Regions from separate parts of the Homo sapiens genome. Here region 1 is linked to region 2. The links come from fine-mapping of genetic effects on gene expression. A gene starts in region 2. The other region holds a variant in brackets. All regions are shown on one strand. Distances are from middle to middle. Region 1 has its middle 77 kb from the start of PLEKHG3. Region 2 holds the start of HSPA2-AS1 (HSPA2 and ZBTB1 antisense RNA 1).

Region 1 (4,388 bases), 88 kb after region 2:
GGCCCCAAGTGACCCAATACATGCATATATAGTCTCAGAAATAAGAATAGCTCATTTCAGAAGCTGGGGTCAGGTGTGGGGTTGGACAGAGGGTGAGCCAAAGGCTAGCCGGGGTGGAAGGTGAGGGGCAGGAAGATACCCCAGAAAGAGCTGCCGAAGAATGGTGAAGATTTGTGCAGAGACTCTTATAGGCTTGAGGAGGTCAGACAACAGGCTGCTCTGTTTGTCTTGTAGGTAGGGGCAGAAAGGCAAATAGAAGGAAAGAATCCAGAGCTGATCTGCCCCACCCTCTGAGTTCCATATTGAGCCTTTGTAATCCAATAGTAAGATTCTCCCTGAGGCAACAGACTCTTATGTCTCCCCGCTTTCACAGCTACAGGGATTTCATACTTTAAACTCTGCACATGGAGGGAAAATAACAGGAAGGACATGCGCGGTGAGCTCTGTGACCTTGGGTCTCTTGTCGGTCTCAGTGCCTCTGCGCTGTTTCCTTGCACTTGACCTGGGTGTCCTGGCTGCTGCCAACTCCGGAGCCAGCTCTTGCCTCGGCTCACCAGCTTCTCCCCGCACCCCCTGGCTGCACTTTCTCTTTTTGATCTCTATGCTAACAACAGCCCAGGCAAGTCAGGAGTACCACGGGGCCTGCCCAGGCCCTTCTTCTGGATCTGGAGCAGGAGGGAGGAAGAGGCAGGAGCCCAGCATGTGTGAGGGGTGAAGCCAGAGGAGAACACTGGGAGTGCCCCCCGACTTGCTCCGTGAGGGCCTCTGCCGGGTCTGAAGGGCTGCTCAGGAAAACATGCACCTGAGCCAGTGGCCCTGGGGCTCTCAGCCTGCCTGGGAGCTGGGAGCCGGGAGCCACTGTAGTTTGGTTTTTGTGTGGGAGTTGCCTTTTATTTTTACCTGTGTATTTATTCATCTGGATTGTATGATAACTCTAAGAGGACAGGTCTAGTCTTCACCACTGATACAGTTTGGCTGTGTCCCTACCCAAATCTCATCTTGAATTGTAGCTCCCATAATCCCCACATGTTGTGAGAGGGACCTGGTGGGAGGTAATTGAATCATGGGGACGGTTACCCCCATGCTGCTGTTCCTGTGATAGTGAGTGAGTTCTCATGAGATCTGATGGTTTTTAAGGGCTTTTTTCCCCCCTTTTGCTTGGCACTTCTTGCTACCACCATGTGAAGAAGGACATGTTTGCTTCCCTTTCTGCCATGACTGTTAAGTTTCTGGAGGCCTCCCGAGCCCTGCTGAACTACGAGTCAATTAAACCTCTTTTCTTTATAAATTACCCAGTCTTGGGTATGTCTTTATTAGCAGCATGAGAATGGACTAATACAAACACTATCAGCAAGAAGTGTCATAATGGCACTGCCAAGGGGAGGTGCCCAGTGAGGCTTTCTTCAAATGAAAAGACAATATAAGCTTCAAGAGGGTGAGGTGGAGGGGTTTGCTGTTTTATTTATTGCTGTAACCTCTAGTCTGGGGGTGGGGATCCACTGTGCTATGTTAGAAGCATGATAAGGGAAAGAGAATCACCATCTTTACTGTTCCCATAGGTGTAAAAACCACTTACAGTTCCTTTGTCAGGAGTATTGGAGACCTATGTGCTTGTCACATAGTAGGTACTAAGTAAATATATACTTTTTATTGAATTAAGTAAGCATTTACCCTGATATAGGCTAGAAGCCTTTTTAAAAGGTTATGACCTGGAGAAAGTCATGGCAAAATTTTTGCAGAGCCCAAATTCCAGATCACTCCATCCATTTAACATTTACTGAGTGCCTACTATATGCTGGGCACAATAATAGATGTTTGGGATACAAAAATGAATCAGATATGAACCTGTCTTCAAGAGGGCCA[CAGG/C]AGGTTTTTTAACTAAGGGGAAAAAAAGCATTGCAGGAGTTGGGCAGAATCAGAGAGGTTGTTTAGAGAAGTGGATAAAAGCATGGGTCCTGGCCTCAGGCAGATGAAGTTTTAAATATTTATCTAAGCCTAAATTTTCTTATCTGTAATGAAGGATAATCATCATTTCTGTTTATTGTAAAGGTTGTTGTGAGAATTAAATGAGCTAATGCATGAGGCTCACTTTGCACACGGCATGGCTTGCACTAAACACAGTAAACACAAAGGGTCCTGATATGGTTTGGCTCTGTTTCTCCACCCAAATCTCATCTTGAATTGTAATCCTCACATGTCGAGGGAGGGACCTGTAATCCCCATGTGTCAAGGGAGGATGATGATTGGATCTTGGGGGTGGTTCCCCCATGCTGTTCTTGTGAGTTCTCACGAGTTCTGATGGTTTTATAAGTGATTGGAAGTTCCTCCTTCACTCTTCTCTGTCCTACCACCTTGTGAAGAAGGTACCTGCTTCCCCTTCCACCATGATTGTAAGTTTCCTGAGGCCTCCCCAGCCATGTGGAACTGTGAGTCAATTAAACCTTTTTCCTTTATAAATTACCCAGTCTCGGCTGGGCAAGGTGGCTCACACCTATAATCCCAGCACTTTGGGAGGCCAAGGTGGGTGGATCACCTGAGGTCAGGAGCAACATGGTGAAACCCTGTCTCTACTAAAAATACAAAAATTAGCCAGGTGTGGTGGCTCATGCCTGTAATCCCAGCTAATTGGGAGGCTGAGGCAGGAGAATAGCTTGAACCCAGGAGGTGGAGGTTGCAGTGAGCCAAGATTGCACCATCGCACTCCAGCCTGGGCAACAAGAGCAAAACTCCATCTCAACAAACAAACAAACAAACAAAAATTACTCAGTCTTGGGCAGTTCTTTAGAGCAGTATGAGAACAGATTAATACAAGTCCCATAGAAAGAGCAGTGTGTTTCACATGGGGAGGCAGTGGTCACAAAAGACTCCTCAGTGGGGGACTCAAGCGAAGTCTCCAAGGATGAGTGGAGGTTCAAGTAGGCAGAGAGGAGGGTGTGTTAGATGGGACGATGTCGAGGAGAACGATACACAGTTCTTCTAGGTCCAGCAGATGAAGGAGCCCCAGGAAGCCACTGGGGGAGGGCTCAGTGCAGAAGCTGCCATGACTACTCCCTACCCAACACACAGCCTTTGGCAGTTTCCGCTCCCCTCCATGGGATCTCTGTAGTGTCACCTATGCATTTAGAGCACCCTGAACCACCACACTGACCCCTAGGATGTGCTTCAGCTACATCCCCAAGCACATGGAAGATATGCACACAGCAATGGGGTGACCATTTGTGAGTTGTCAGACTTCAGCAGGGCGGGGCCAAACACCACCTGAAACTGCCTTGGTGCCAGGCTCTAAGCATTTCACCTATATTAACTCCTTTAACCCTCACAATGAGCCAAGAAGGTAGGTACTATTATTTGTCCCATTTTATAATTGGGAAAACAAAGGCACAGAGAGGTGATGCACTTTGCTTGAGGTCACATAGCTAGGAAATGGTGGAGGAAGGCTTAAAGACAAGGCAGTCTAGTCCAGAGGTGGGGCTTCTAGCCACCATCCTATGCTGAAAGCATGATAAGGGGTAGAGAATCACAGTCTTTACTGTTTCTATGGGTGTAAATACCACTTCAAGTTGCCTTTTGAGGAGAGTTGGAGACCTATGTACAGCTCACTGAAAATCTAAAGACTATCTGCACACTCTTCCCAGAAAACACAAGGTTGCAAATGTAATTCTAGTGGGTTGTGGGTCCCCTGAAGACTATCTGTGGACGCTACAGGCCTGTGAACTTGAGGTTAATGGGTGTGAGATTTCCAGTGTGGCCTGGAGACAGGGGTGGGGGAGGGAAGTGCGTTTGCTGGAGAGTGCCAAGCAGGGGGCAGACTGGTTCTGAGGCCATGGCCAGGCCCAGCTGAGCGCAGATGATGTGCTAGCCAGGCTGGCCGTGACTGCGTGCTGCCCAGCTCACTGCTTAGCTCTTTGGAGATGAAAGTGCTCGCCTCAAACTCTGAATCATCCCTTGCTATTTCTTTACATATTTTTGCAAGAAGGAAGTCTTTATTTGGAATGATTCACGAACATCTTATAAATCAAGAGATACACAAAACAGACTTCAAGGAGCTATAGAAACCTACAGAGACACAGAAGCTATAAAAACAAACTGTTTCCAAGGGCCCTGTGCTGTGGCAAAGCATGTCTCACATGCAGGGAAAAGAAAATTAAAATCAACCCTGTAAGAGATAGATTAGAAATCTAGTTAATATAATGCACAGCTATTTTCTTTTTTAATAAAGGGAGTCAAGGTAATACATACACATGATTAAAAAGTAAGAAATTTGGCTGGGGGCGGTGGCTCAGGTCTGTAATCCCAGCACTTTGGGAGGCCAAGGCGGGTGGATCACCTGAGGTCAGGAGTTTGAGACCAGCCTGACCCACATGGAGAAACCCCATCTCTACTAAAAA
Region 2 (4,314 bases):
TCTTTTTTTTTTTAGACAGAGTCTTGCTCTGTCGCCCAGGCTGGAGTGCAGTGGCGTGATCTCAGCTCACTGCAACCTCTGCCTCCCGGATTCAAGCAATCCTCTGCCTCAGCCTCCCAAGTAGCTGGGATTACAGGCGCCCACCACCAGGCCCGGCTAATTTTTGTATTTTTAGTAGAGACAGGGTTTCACCATCTTGGCCAGGCTGGTCTTGAACTTCTGACCTCGTGATCCACGCGCCTCGGCCTCCCAAAGTGCTGGGATTACAGGCATGAGCCACCGCGTCCAGCCTTTCTAATATTTTCTTTAAAACGTCCCCTTTTTCAAAATTTTTTCAAATTCATGGAAAAGAGGATAGGAATTATGGTTAAAATTAGTACTAACTGATGACATTAACCGATTAATAACCAATTATGTTCTTAAAAACTGGAAATGATATACACCACTAGATAAAATAATCTTAAATGTTCATTGACTTTATAGAATTCTCTCAACATTACTTTTTGGTCACAGATAACTTCTGGGTTGACAAAAGCTTTTCTCCAGCGCCATTTCATACAGCTTTTACATGGCTGCACATCACTAGCCTGCTTTAAAGGACGGTGCTCCCAGCCCAAAGCCTCAGGAAAAAGACCATGGCTCAAAAAGCTCTGAGATGTATCCTATCCACCTGAAGAGCCTATTGCTTGCCTGTATCCCTCCCTTCTAGTGACACTAATCTTCTGTACAGAAATCCTAGTCCAGCAAACATTGCTCTCATCTTCGCCCATACACAACCTATGTAAAGAATGGCTTTCCTACTCTTTGCTGGCGAACTTCAGCTCCCGGATTAGGCATGCCACCTCTTCCAGGTAGCTCTCAGCAACGCACTTTTCCATCAGCCTGGGTGTGCCCCTCTGTGTTCCCATGGCGCTTTGCTTTCAGCGCTTCTCCCAAATTATGTTTACCTGTTTATTAGACTCTCCACCTCTGAAGACCAGGCCATTTCATTTGGCTTTTTACTGCCACGTAGTAGGTACCTGTTCAAGCTTGATGGAAGGACTTCCCCAGCCTCCCCACACATATTATGTAAAGTGATCGCTGTCTTTGCTTCCTCCTGGAGACCATTTATTTTATTTTTTTGAGACGGAGTCTCGTTCTGTCGCCCAGGCTGGAGTGCAGTGTCGCAATCTCGACTGACTGCAACCTCTGCCTCTCGAGTAGCTGGGACTACAGGCGCGCGCCACCACGCCCGGCTAATTTTTGTATTTTTAGTAGAGACGGGGTTTCACCATGTTGGCCAGGCTGGCCTCGAACTTCTGACAGCAAGTGATCCACCTACCGCGGCCTTTCAAAGTGCTGAAACTACAGGCATGAGCCTCCACACCCGTCCAGGAGCCCATTTATATGGGAGCCTGCTTCTAAAGATTATTACCTGGTGCCAGGGTATTTTCCAGACCTGTCCTCACATTCCTGTTAAACAGGAGGAAGTGAATCGCGCTCCTTTTCATCTACCTTCTCGGAGGGTTTATGCCTCCAATATTAACCTCAGCACAGCCAAAGAAAATCATTCCATTCCATTGAGCGGAGTCAGAAACATGACTAGGTCACGATCACAACCCCGTGTGTGCCAGGGTGACCGAGACTGGGTGACTTTATGGTGTTTCAACGTGTGGGTTTTGACTGATTATATTATGGGTTTTCCAGTCAAAAACTCAAAGCAGTGGATAAAGCACTTGCGACCTAAAATAAGCAATGGAATGAACAGGAAGGCGAAACCAGAGTTTAAAGCGGCAGGACAAACAGGAAAAAGGAAGAGTGAGGCAGGAAGGGTTTAAATGCAGGCTCCTCGGAGGACAAGTCGCCGCCACACCCCTGTCTGCCGTCCCGCCAGCCGCCCTCACGCGGCGCGGGAAAACGGTCGGCCTCGCCCTGGGCTCAGGTTCTCTCCGCCCGCCAGGCAGTGGGGTTTTTTTTTGTTTTTTTTGAGACGGAGTCTCGCTCAGTCGCCCAGGCTGGAGTGTAGTGGCGTGATCTCGGCTCACTGCAACCTCCACCTCCCGGGTTCAAGCGATTCTCCTGCCTCAGCCTCCCGAGTAGCTGAGACTACAGGCACGCGCCACCACGCCCAGCTAATTTTTGTATCTTTAGTAGAGACGGGCTTTCACCATGTTGGCCAGGATGGTCTCGATGTCTTAACGTCGTGATCCGGCCGCCTCGGCCTCCCAAGTGCTGGGATTACAGGCGTTAGCCACTGCGCCCGGCCCCAGCCAGGCAGTTTTAATCGAGCGCTCACAACCACTGAGACGCAGTGAAGCACCCACCATAAAATCCCAGGAGGCCGACCGCCGGTTCAGACTTTTTCTTTTCTTTAATCCCCGTCCAAGGGATCCGCCCTCACCCCCCACCCCAGCCACCCCAATTCCCTATTCCCTCCCCTTGGACGGCGCCGGGGAAAACAAGCTGCTCGAGCTTTATTTCTTCGGTGCAACCAACTCAGAATGAATTCCTCCGCCCCTGCGTGCTCAGTGAGTCGGCACCCTAGCAGTGAACTGCATTTAAAACCTCAGGAATTGAGCGAACTCTCCCAGTGGCTCTCCTCACCGGGATCCCCTTCCACGCCTCCTCCCCGTGCCGCGCCTCAGTCCGCACTGCTCATTGGCCGCGTGCCCTGCCAATCCGATGCACGTCGGCTAGGGCAAAGACCGCGAAAAAGCGCGTACACCTGGCTCTGGGAGCGCGCGCCTAACGCCAGCCAGCAGCAGGAGGCGCGCGAGGCACCACGGCCTGGCGGCCGAGAGTCAGGGAGGAACCTCATTTACATAACGGCCGCCCCTCTGTCTCCTGGCGGGGGCCGGAGTCCCGCCCCTCGTCCAACTTGAAATCTGTTGGGTCACGGGCCAGTCACTCCGACCTAGGCAAGCCTGTGGTGGAGCTGGAAGAGTTTGTGAGGGCGGTCCCGGGAGCGGATTGGGTCTGGGAGTTCCCAGAGGCGGCTATAAGAACCGGGAACTGGGCGCGGGGAGCTGAGTTGCTGGTAGTGCCCGTGGTGCTTGGTTCGAGGTGGCCGTTAGTTGACTCCGCGGAGTTCATCTCCCTGGTTTTCCCGTCCTAACGTCGCTCGCCTTTCAGTCAGGATGTCTGCCCGTGGCCCGGCTATCGGCATCGACCTGGGCACCACCTATTCGTGCGTCGGGGTCTTCCAACATGGCAAGGTGGAGATCATCGCCAACGACCAGGGCAATCGCACCACCCCCAGCTACGTGGCCTTCACGGACACCGAGCGCCTCATCGGCGACGCCGCCAAGAACCAGGTGGCCATGAACCCCACCAACACCATCTTCGACGCCAAGAGGCTGATTGGACGGAAATTCGAGGATGCCACAGTGCAGTCGGATATGAAACACTGGCCGTTCCGGGTGGTGAGCGAGGGAGGCAAGCCCAAAGTGCAAGTAGAGTACAAGGGGGAGACCAAGACCTTCTTCCCAGAGGAGATATCCTCCATGGTCCTCACGAAGATGAAGGAGATCGCGGAAGCCTACCTGGGGGGCAAGGTGCACAGCGCGGTCATAACGGTCCCGGCCTATTTCAACGACTCGCAGCGCCAGGCCACCAAGGACGCAGGCACCATCACGGGGCTCAATGTGCTGCGCATCATCAACGAGCCCACGGCGGCGGCCATCGCCTACGGCCTGGACAAGAAGGGCTGCGCGGGCGGCGAGAAGAACGTGCTCATCTTTGACCTGGGCGGTGGCACTTTCGACGTGTCCATCCTGACCATCGAGGATGGCATCTTCGAGGTGAAGTCCACGGCCGGCGACACCCACCTGGGCGGTGAGGACTTCGACAACCGCATGGTGAGCCACCTGGCGGAGGAGTTCAAGCGCAAGCACAAGAAGGACATTGGGCCCAACAAGCGCGCCGTGAGGCGGCTGCGCACCGCTTGCGAGCGCGCCAAGCGCACCCTGAGCTCGTCCACGCAGGCGAGCATCGAGATCGACTCGCTCTACGAGGGCGTGGACTTCTATACGTCCATCACGCGCGCCCGCTTCGAGGAGCTCAATGCCGACCTCTTTCGCGGGACCCTGGAGCCGGTGGAGAAGGCGCTGCGCGACGCCAAGCTGGACAAGGGCCAGATCCAGGAGATCGTGCTGGTGGGCGGCTCCACTCGTATCCCCAAGATCCAGAAGCTGCTGCAGGATTTCTTCAACGGCAAGGAGCTGAACAAGAGCATCAACCCCGACGAGGCGGTGGCCTATGGCGCCGCGGTGCAGGCGGCCATCCTCATCGGCGACAAATCAGAGAATGTGCAGGACCTGCTGCTACTCGACGTGA

The links. PIP is the estimated chance that this variant, and not a neighbour inherited with it, causes the effect. A credible set is the group of variants that fine-mapping cannot tell apart.
Region 1: its variant is the best candidate, but not a certain one, in a credible set for the expression of HSPA2-AS1 in tibial nerve (GTEx, PIP 0.68).

What each region holds. Positions count from the first base shown.
Region 1 is chr14:64,625,284-64,629,671 of GRCh38, forward strand. No RefSeq gene overlaps it. Among named protein-coding and RNA genes, the nearest start is that of PLEKHG3, 77 kb to the right of the region's middle. The variant CAGG/C (reference allele first, on the strand shown) is at 1,864.
Region 2 is chr14:64,537,734-64,542,047 of GRCh38, forward strand. It overlaps HSPA2-AS1 (HSPA2 and ZBTB1 antisense RNA 1), which reads right to left and starts at 2,635. Exons shown (of 4, transcript NR_110550.1): 1 at 2,584-2,635. It overlaps HSPA2 (heat shock protein family A (Hsp70) member 2), which reads left to right and starts at 3,008. Exons shown (of 1, transcript NM_021979.4): 1 at 3,008-4,314. The coding sequence starts at 3,117. RefSeq lists a silencer at 2,783-2,872 and an enhancer at 3,043-3,152.